Linked DNA regions of Homo sapiens: regions 2 and 3 are each reported to be linked to region 1. The links are microRNA targets in miRTarBase. Many come from high-throughput screens and were not tested one by one. Region 1 holds a microRNA gene; each other region holds the end of a gene's coding sequence.

Region 1 (3,110 bases):
GGAGGGGGAAGAGATGGCGGCACCCACCCCTATGGGACCCGCCCTTGTTTGCTGGAGGTGGGAGCCTGGCCCCTGCCCCAGATGTTCTGCCTTTGTCTTGGGTTGGCCCCTCCTGTGGTTTGGGCAGAGACCATACCTGGGCGGTCCTGGGTACTCACCAGGCTGCAGAAATGCTGGCGGCTGCAGCAGGAGCAGCAGGGGCAGCAGCAGGGGCCGACCCATGGCCTTGTTCTTCTCCAGGGGACGGGGAGACCAGCAGAGCTGTCCAGGCAGGAGAGGGGCCCTGTGGAGGGGCTGCCTGAGGGCTGAGGTGAGTGGGGAGAGCCAGGGTGAGGCTCCCCAGAGGGCTGTGGGGGCCGGGGACCTTCCCCAAACCAGTACACCTCCAGGGTGACCAGCACTTCCTTTATCCATCTGGCTTCTTATTGCAAAAGGGCCTTAGGTGCCTTTTTATCCCTTGCCTAATTGCTCCGGCCAGGACTTCAAATCCTTTTTTTTTTTTTTTTTTTAGTAGAGATGGGGTTTTGCCATGTTGGCCAGGGTGGTCTCACACTCATAGGCTCAAGTAATCTGCCCGCCTCAGCCTCCAAAAGTGCTGGGATTACAGGCGTGAGCCACTGTGCCCGGCCTGACTTCAAATCCTGTGTTGAATAGAAGTAGTGAGAGCGGGCATCCTTCTCTTGTTCCTGATCTTGGAGGCAAAGATTTCAGTCTTTCATCTAAAATGACTGAAAGACTTTCAGCCATGGGCCTTGCATGACTGGCCTTTATTTTGTTGCAGTACATTCCTTCTCTTCCTGGTTTGTGGAGTGTTTTACCAGGAAAGGGTGTTCAGGCTGGGCACAGTGGCTCAAGTCACACAAAAGTGTCAAGTCAGCCCTGCCCAAGGGCCCCAGTGCCCATCTTCCTGCTGAGGGGCTGGGCCTCACCTTGGCTGGCTGGGCCCCTCCCACCTGGATCCCTGCAGACCCCACCGCACTCAGCCTCACTTCTCATCCCTTTCTCTGTCCAAGGCCAGCGCAGGCTCTTTCAGGGAGAGGAAAGGCGGGCCTGAGTCTGTGCTCTGCTGCACCCCAGATTCAGTCCTCAGAGAGGAGAAGGAGGAAGCCAGTGGAGGTCACAGGCGCTCAGCCCCCAGCCCAAGCACCAGAGCCCCCAGCTTGTCCTCTGTCCCTCTCCCTCCCTGGCAGGGGCTCCCATGCAGTCCCCAGGCACCACCACAGCCCAGCTGGCCTCTTCCCACCCCAGGCCTGCTCCCTTGGTGCAGGGACCACAGTCTTGCTCAAGGGGTGAGGGGGCTGACGGTCCCCTACACAGAGACTGGTCCCTCTCGAGGCCACCCCTTGACCCCCAGACATGAGACTGGATCTGCAGGGTCCCCTCTGACCTCCCTGCCCTACACAGGAGGGGACAGAGCTTGGAGAAGCCCTGTCCCAGGCCACATGACTTGCAGGGCAGTCCCAGGACTGGAGCCCCCTCTACCTGGATCTCTGGGCCTCAACTTCTGAGTTGCAGGAACTCAGGCATAGGGGAGCCCCAGGAGGTTGTTCCCTCATACAGCCCCTCAGGTCATTCCCTCCACACACCTGAGCCTATGGCTGAACCAGGAAGGTTCCTTGGTGCCAGGGCAGCTGGACTCACCCTGGGTGATGGTGAGGTGGGTCCCCTTGATGGACTGCCACGACAGCCTCCCTGATCTGTATGTCCAGCTGGACTTGGCAGAAGTACACAGACTGGTCCTCCTTCCGCAGGTTCGAGATCCTGAGGAAGCCTCCCTGAGGAAGTGAAGGCTCAGAGCAACAGTGGGCACCCCGCACAAAGTCCTGGGCCCGTCTCTAACAGGGGATCTGCAGGTCTTTGCCCGGGGGTGGTCACTGGAGCTTTGGTGACCCACAGGGCTCCCTCCATAGGAGGCTCTGCCCATCCTCTCCAGAGTAAGGTGGCATCAGCTGAGGGGCCGTGGGGACAGGAAGGCAGGATTTCACCAGAGGAAGTGATAACAATCTTCTTGAGACAGAAGCAGGCAGGGACAGGCCTCCCTTCTCTTGTCAGTCTCTTCCCTGGTCCCAGTAGGCTCCTCTGTGCTTCCCAGGGCCAGTCAGGCCGATCCACCCTCCTTCCCTTCACAGGTCTGAGGAAACAGGCTCCCCATGCTCAGGAAACCCCTCCGTCTGAGCCAGGCCCTATACACCTCATTCTCCTTGTTCAACCCACAGGGAAACTGAGGCACCGGGGCTTTGGACTGAACTGGTCCCACCTGCAAAGGTGGGCCGAAAAGAGGACAAGGGACCCCCTGGCTGTTTGGGCAAGGCCTCAAGAGGGTGGCCCACCCTGCCTGAGGACTTTTTGTTTTTTTTTTTTGAGATGGATTCTCGCTGTGTTGCCCAGGCTGGAGTGCAATGGTGTGATCTTGGCTCACGGTAACCTCTGCTTCCTGGGTTCAAGTAATTCTCCTGCCTCAGCCTTCCAAGTAGCTGGGAATTACAGGTGTGTGCCACCACACCCAGCTAATTTTTATATTTTTAGTAGAGACAGGGTTTCACCATGTTGGCCAGGCTGGTCTCAAACTCCTGGCCTCAAGTGATCTGCCCACCTCAGCCTCCCAAAGTGCTGGGATTATAGGCATGGGATACAACACCCAGCCACTGAGGACTGACTCTTCGTTCCATTCCTGCCTTGCCCGTGGCCCATGGGACCCAGCTAGAAGGTCACCTGCTTACCAGGCTGCCCAAGGAGGGGGCCACATAGAACTTTTAGCCAACAGCCTCTGGGTAGCTCTGGAGGGTACATACTCCCCAGGGGCCTCAGGCCCGGTACCGCCACGTGCATTCTCCTTAGATGCAAGGTGCGTGTTTATGTCACTTTCCGGGCTCTGGACCCAGCTGAACCCCCATGGGAGATTCCTTTTGTGTCAGGATTTCTGCTCTGGAATGGTGTGAGGCCTCCCGGATGGTTCATCCTCCCTCCCCCAACAGCAGTGACAGGGCCTGGGGCTAAGCCTGGGGCTGTGGCTCTCTCTCAGAGGGGGGTTTTGGGAGGCACCGGCCCTGGAGGAGGGCATGATTCCAACATGGGCAGAGTCTAAATCCAGCCCGTTAGCCCAGCAGGTG
Region 2 (3,068 bases), not on the chromosome of region 1:
TAACCTGGACATAGAGTCTATTGATGCTCTAGGGGAGGCCATCAATGAATACAAGGGTGGTAAGTCAGCTGAGAGTGTGCCCTCATCCCTGCTCCATGGGGACCAAGCTGTAGTGTCCTTCACTACAGAAGGGCCTAGGACTCCCTTATTTCATGTTCTGATTCCCCTCTTTCTCCTTTCTTCCTGCCCTCTGTTGTTGCTATCTTTCTTCAAAGCTGTGATCGTTGTCAGCCATGATGCCCGACTCATCACAGAAACCAATTGCCAGCTGTGGGTGGTGGAGGAGCAGAGTGTTAGCCAAATCGATGGTGACTTTGAAGACTACAAGCGGGAGGTGTTGGAGGCCCTGGGTGAAGTCATGGTCAGCCGGCCCCGAGAGTGAGCTTTCCTTCCCAGAAGTCTCCCGAGAGACATATTTGTGTGGCCTAGAAGTCCTCTGTGGTCTCCCCTCCTCTGAAGACTGCCTCTGGCCTGCAGCTGACCTGGCAACCATTCAGGCACATGAAGGTGGAGTGTGACCTTGATGTGACCGGGATCCCACTCTGATTGCATCCATTTCTCTGAAAGACTTGTTTGTTCTGCTTCTCTTCATATAACTGAGCTGGCCTTATCCTTGGCATCCCCCTAAACAAACAAGAGGTGACCACCTTATTGTGAGGTTCCATCCAGCCAAGTTTATGTGGCCTATTGTCTCAGGACTCTCATCACTCAGAAGCCTGCCTCTGATTTACCCTACAGCTTCAGGCCCAGCTGCCCCCCAGTCTTTGGGTGGTGCTGTTCTTTTCTGGTGGATTTAATGCTGACTCACTGGTACAAACAGCTGTTGAAGCTCAGAGCTGGAGGTGAGCTTCTGAGGCCTTTGCCATTATCCAGCCCAAGATTTGGTGCCTGCAGCCTCTTGTCTGGTTGAGGACTTGGGGCAGGAAAGGAATGCTGCTGAACTTGAATTTCCCTTTACAAGGGGAAGAAATAAAGGAAAGGAGTTGCTGCCGACCTGTCACTGTTTGGAGATTGATGGGAGTTGGAACTGTTCTCAGTCTTGATTTGCTTTATTCAGTTTTCTAGCAGCTTTTAATAGTCCCCTCTTCCCCACTAAATGGATCTTGTTTGCAGTCTTGCTGACAGTGTTTGCTGTTTAAGGATCATAGGATTCCTTTCCCCCAACCCTTCACGCAAGGAAAAAGCAAAGTGATTCATACCTTCTATCTTGGAACATGGGTCTCTTTCCTTTTTTTTTTTTTTTTTTTTTTTGACAGAATCTTGCCCTTTCACTCAGGCTGGAGTGCAGTGGCATGATCTTGGCTCACTGCAGCCTCCACCTCCTGGGTTCAAGCAATTTTCCTGCCTCAGCCTCCCGAGTAGCTGGGATTACAGGCACACACCACCAGGCCCAGCTAATTTTAGTGTTTTTAATAGAGACAGGGTTTTACCATGTTGGTCAGGCTGGTCTCGAACTCTTGACCTCAAGTAATTCACCTACCTTGACTTCCTAAAGTGCTGGGATTATAGGGATGAGCCACTGTGCCCAACTTCTTTTTTTTTCTCTTTTCTGAGACAGGGTCTTGCTGTGTTGCCCAGGCTAGAGTGCACTGTACCCTCAACCTCCTGGGCTCAAGCAATCCTTCCACCTCAGCCTCCTGAGTAGCTGGGACTACAGGCATGTGCCGCCACACTCAACTAATTTTTTTTTTTTTAATTTTTAGTAGAGACAGTGTCTTGCTATGTTGCTTAAGGCTGGTCCTGAACTCCTGACCTCAGGCAGTCTTCCTACCTCGACCTCCCAAAGTGCTGGGGTGCTGGGATTATAGACGTGAGCCACGACGCCTAGCCAGAATTTGGGTCTCATTGTCCAAGTTAATCTCATGAATGAGGAGGTGCTCTGCCCTGTGGCCAGGGACCAGGGTATTGATTCTCTCAAAAATTATTAAATCATCTAGCCAAAATGTACGGTACTGTGGGGTATATAAGAAGGGAAGAGACAAGATCTGCCTTCATTAATAGTCTGGTTAGAGAAGACTTAAAAGTAAGCATGAATAGATAATTAATTTGATCAATTGTCTAATATGTCGTACTCTAGATTCTAAGTTGCCACATACTCAAAAAAGGGAAAGATTATCCAGGGCCTGATTATTTGACAGGGTCACTTGAGGGTAGATCTTGAAAAATGATGATTTGACTAATCAGGGACCAGGGAGCCATTTTTCAGAAGTAGGAAAAGAGCAGATCTCAGGCTTGGGGGGAAGAACAAGCTACTTGGGAGTTAATGGATGATAGCTGCTGTGGCCATTTTTCTTAAGAGTTAGACTGGGGAGATGGGTTTGGAAAGTAAAATGCAAATGGTGGGTAGTGGTATTAGGTGGTGATGTGCAAGGCGTGCTGTAGAAACCTGCAGGGTGAAGCCCATAACTTTTGTTACGGGAATGGGGTAACTGAATCCTAAACTAGCTAGGGGAGATAGGGATGGAAAGAGCAGATGTGGAGGTTGGGGAGAAGGGAGTGACAGGAGATATATCCAGTTCCAGAGGGAATAGGGAGAGCTGTGTGGCTAAGATTTAACTGTTTGGACATTTAATTTGGGGAAATTGTTTTCCAGCCAAGTGAATAAATAATACTGGACTTCAAGTACAAGCTTCATACAGGAAGTGAAGTTTTGGTGTGGAGATAGCTGCATAGTCAGGGAACACTCTAAATTAAAAATAAGGAGGCCGGGCATGGTGGCTCATGCCTGTAATCCCAGCACTTTGGGAGGCGGGCAGATCATGAGGTCAGGAGTTCGAGAGCACCCTGACCAACATATTGAAACCCCATCTCCACTAAAAATACAAAAAAATTAGCCGAGCGTGGTGGTGCACACCTGTAGTCCCAGCTACTCAGGAGGCTGAGGCAGGAGAATTGCTTGAACCCGGGAGGCAGTGGTTGCAGTGAGCCGAGGTTGCGCCACTGCACTCCAGCCTGAGCAACAGAGCGAGACTCTGTCTCAAACAAAAACCAAAAGACATCAGGAAACATGCCTCTTATGGAATTTGAGGGGGAAAAGTCAGGGTCTTGGCAGTGACCTTGGACAAGCC
Region 3 (3,068 bases), not on the chromosome of region 1:
GGGCTTTTAAAAAGCCAGTTGGACTTTAAAATGTTCTAAATGAAACAGTATGTTATTAATTGTATTAATTATGGACATCTATGTAGATGTCATTTTATTATTCTGTGGGACAAAATGGGAAATACACTTAAAGCACTTCTGCAAAGAAAAGCATTTCCTTGAGTGTCTGAGTTTCAGGCTGAACTTGACACTTTTTTCTTGGAACATCATTTTTATTTGAAATAATGACTGACAAACTATAGTTCATCATATACAGTTATATAGTAAACACTTTCCTAAAAATGAGGAAAGTGAATCTATCACTTCAAAGAAAGCAACTGACAACATTTGTCATCAATGATAAGATGAGCTTTTGGGGGGGAGATGGAATTTTGTAAAACATATTTTTCACTGTGAGCTTGACAGCTTCCCAATACTGCAATACTTTCCTGATGAGATTGGTGAAGACACTAACAAAATGATTTCATGGTAGTATACAATAAAATGCATCAACACTTGGAATATTTGCTTAACTCAGCGAATAAATATTTTCAAGATGAGCAATGCCTGATATCACAAAATCATGCATTAGTAAAAAAAATCATTCAAAGTACAAAATCAACCAGTGCACTTTAATGTAATAGCATTTGAAAAATGTTCACTGATAATGCTTTCAGATCCACACCACAATTAACTTTTAAGAAACTGCCATCTGCCTTTGTAGAATCAAAATATATCCCAAAATTACCTGAAAAAGCTATTAAAATACTTCCTTGTATTCCAACTGTATATCTGTGTGAGACTGAATTTTTTTCATATACATCAACCAAAACAATATATTGCAACAGAGTAGATGAAGAAACTGATATGAGAATCCAGCTGTGTTCTATTAAGCCAGGGAATAAAGAGATTTGCAAAAGTGTAAAACAATGTTACTCTTCTCAGTACCTTTTTTTTAAATAGCTTTTTACATAACAATGGGTTATTTTTGTTAACACGTAATGGGTTTATTATTGTTACTTCTAAAAAAGTTAGTAAATAATTACTTACATTTTCTCCTATTTAATTTCGAATAGTCAATATCATCAGACATAACCCACATAAACAAAGGCTCCTCAGCGTCCTTTAAAAGTGAAGAGTCCTGAGATCAAAATGTTTAGGAAGTGCTGGCCTTAGATAACACATCTGAGAAGTGATGAAGCCGGGTCTATGTTCATCTGGCTCCCAAACCCATTTTGTTTCCAGGATACGATGTTGCCTCCTTACCCAAAGTCTCATCAGTACTAAAATAAAAAACAGAATTGGATTCCTAAAAGCTTTATTTTGCAATGTTTTCCATAATACTTAAGTTTTTCAACGTTTAGATATTTTTCTTTATTGAAGGATGAATTTCTTTTTATGGCTTGTTTTATATCGTGCAATGTTTTTTCTATAATGTTTAAGTTTTTTTATGTATGGGTGTGTGTGTGTATATATATATATTTTTTTCTTTTTCTTTTTTTTTTTTTTTTTTTGAGACATAGTCTCACTCCGTCGTCCAGGCTGGAGTGCAGTGGCGCGACCTTGGCTCACTGCAACCTATGCCTCCTGGGTTCAAGCGATTCTCCTGCCTCAGCCTCCCAAGTAGCTGGGACTATAGGCACATGCTACCACGCCTGGCTAATTTTTTGTATTTTTAGTAGAGATGGGGTTTCACTGTGTTAGCCAGGATGGTCTCAATCTCCTGACCTCATGATCCGCCCGCCTCAGCCTCCCAAAGTGCTGGGATTACGGGAGTGAGCCACCATGCCCAGCGATGTTTAGATGTTTTTGCGGAAGCAAAAGTTTCTTGCCCTAAAGCTTTAGAACTCCATTAGGTATTGAAGATGACTCTTTGGGGCTATAAAATAAAATGCAGTAAACATACTAGTTTTATATTGCATGCAAAGTCCAAATAGTTGAGAAATGTCCTCTATTAGATTTCACAAAACAGAAAGAATTCTGAGCCAGGCACAATGGCTCATGCCTGCAATCCTAGCACAAGAGACTGAGGTGGGAGAGAATCACTTGAGGCCAGGAGTTTGAGACCACCCTGGGCAACAGAGCAAGATGCCATCTCCACAAAAAATTAAAAAATTACCCAGGTATGGGCCGGGCACGGTGGCTCATGCCCGTAATCCCAGCACTTTGGGAGGCAGAGATGGGTGGATCACGAGGTCAGGAGTTCAGGACCAGCCTGGCCAAGATGATGAAACCCCGTCTCTACTAAAAATATAAAAATTAACCGGGTGTGGTGGCAGTCGCCTATAATCCCAGCTACTTGGGAGGCTGAGGCAGAGAATTTCTTGAACCCAGGAGGTGGAGGTTGCAGTGAGCCGAGATTGCACCACTGCATTCCAGCCTGGGTGACACAGCGAGACTCTGTCTCAAAAAAAAAAAAAAAAAAATTACCCAGGTGTGGTGGCCTGTACCTGTAGCCCCAGCTGCTCTGGAGGCTGAGGCTGGAGGATCGCTTGAGCCTAGGAGTTCGAGGCTGCAGTGAGCTGTGATGGTGCCACTGCACTCCAGCCTGGGCAACAGAGGTAGATAGATCTTGTCTCTTAAGAACAAAAAAAGTAATTCTAATTCTCTGGCTCTGGGCTGATTTTTCATCCATTGGGACTAAGCCCCAGGAGTTACAGTGATGTCCCGGGGGGGCCAGCCTTGCTGGGGGATGCCCTTAGGAGGAATTCTTGCATGCCCTTCCTCAGCCGTGCATTCTCCGCGACCTCCCTCAGGCTTCTGTGCAGCTTCTCCATCTCCTTGTATTCACTCCCGACATCTACAGGAGAGCAGAAAGCTCACATCAGGACTTGGTGTCCGTTGCAGAAACGTCTCCAGAAAGCAAATCCCCCAACAATCCTGTCACTTGTCCCAGAATATGAGATCTGGAGTGGTGCTTACAGATCAGACATCAAAGCAGGTGTTCCTCCTCTTACCAGAAAGCTTTCTCAGCATGGGGTCACCCTCAAAAGAAACCCAAACCTACCCATAAGAAAAACCCTGAGAAGTCACTGGGTCTGTATTAAGGCTTCACAGGTGTGTGATATACAAAGCATGTTGCACAATAA

Evidence for each region. Region 1 holds the annotated microRNA hsa-miR-6840-3p (GCCCAGGACUUUGUGCGGGGUG, at 1,808-1,829, opposite strand). A microRNA usually pairs through its seed, bases 2 to 8, with sites in the 3' UTR of a target mRNA and lowers its output. Matches are read on the target gene's strand: a 7mer-m8 pairs with bases 2 to 8, a 7mer-A1 pairs with bases 2 to 7 and ends in A, and an 8mer does both.
Region 2: the mRNA of ABCF1 is a reported target of hsa-miR-6840-3p. The part of its 3' UTR that is shown has no 7-base or 8-base seed match.
Region 3: the mRNA of NUGGC is a reported target of hsa-miR-6840-3p. Seed matches in the 3' UTR shown: 7mer-m8 at 2,626-2,632 and 7mer-m8 at 2,309-2,315.

Annotation. Positions count from the first base shown.
Region 1 is chr7:100,355,415-100,358,524 of GRCh38, reverse strand. MIR6840 (microRNA 6840) reads right to left here and starts at 1,874; the gene lies at 1,804-1,874. It overlaps PILRB (paired immunoglobin like type 2 receptor beta), which reads right to left and starts at 408. Exons shown (of 4, transcript NM_178238.4): 1 at 159-408. The coding sequence starts at 222. STAG3L5P-PVRIG2P-PILRB (STAG3L5P-PVRIG2P-PILRB readthrough) reads right to left here. Exons shown (of 17, transcript NR_036570.1): 13 at 1,642-1,775; 14 at 159-305.
Region 2 is chr6:30,590,320-30,593,387 of GRCh38, forward strand. It overlaps ABCF1 (ATP binding cassette subfamily F member 1), which reads left to right. Exons shown (of 25, transcript NM_001025091.2): 24 at 1-59; 25 at 216-1,203. The coding sequence ends at 382. Among named protein-coding and RNA genes, the nearest start is that of MIR877, 7.5 kb to the left of the region's middle.
Region 3 is chr8:28,020,684-28,023,751 of GRCh38, forward strand. It overlaps NUGGC (nuclear GTPase, germinal center associated), which reads right to left. Exons shown (of 19, transcript NM_001010906.2): 19 at 1,281-2,779. The coding sequence ends at 2,634. Among named protein-coding and RNA genes, the nearest start is that of SCARA5, 30 kb to the left of the region's middle.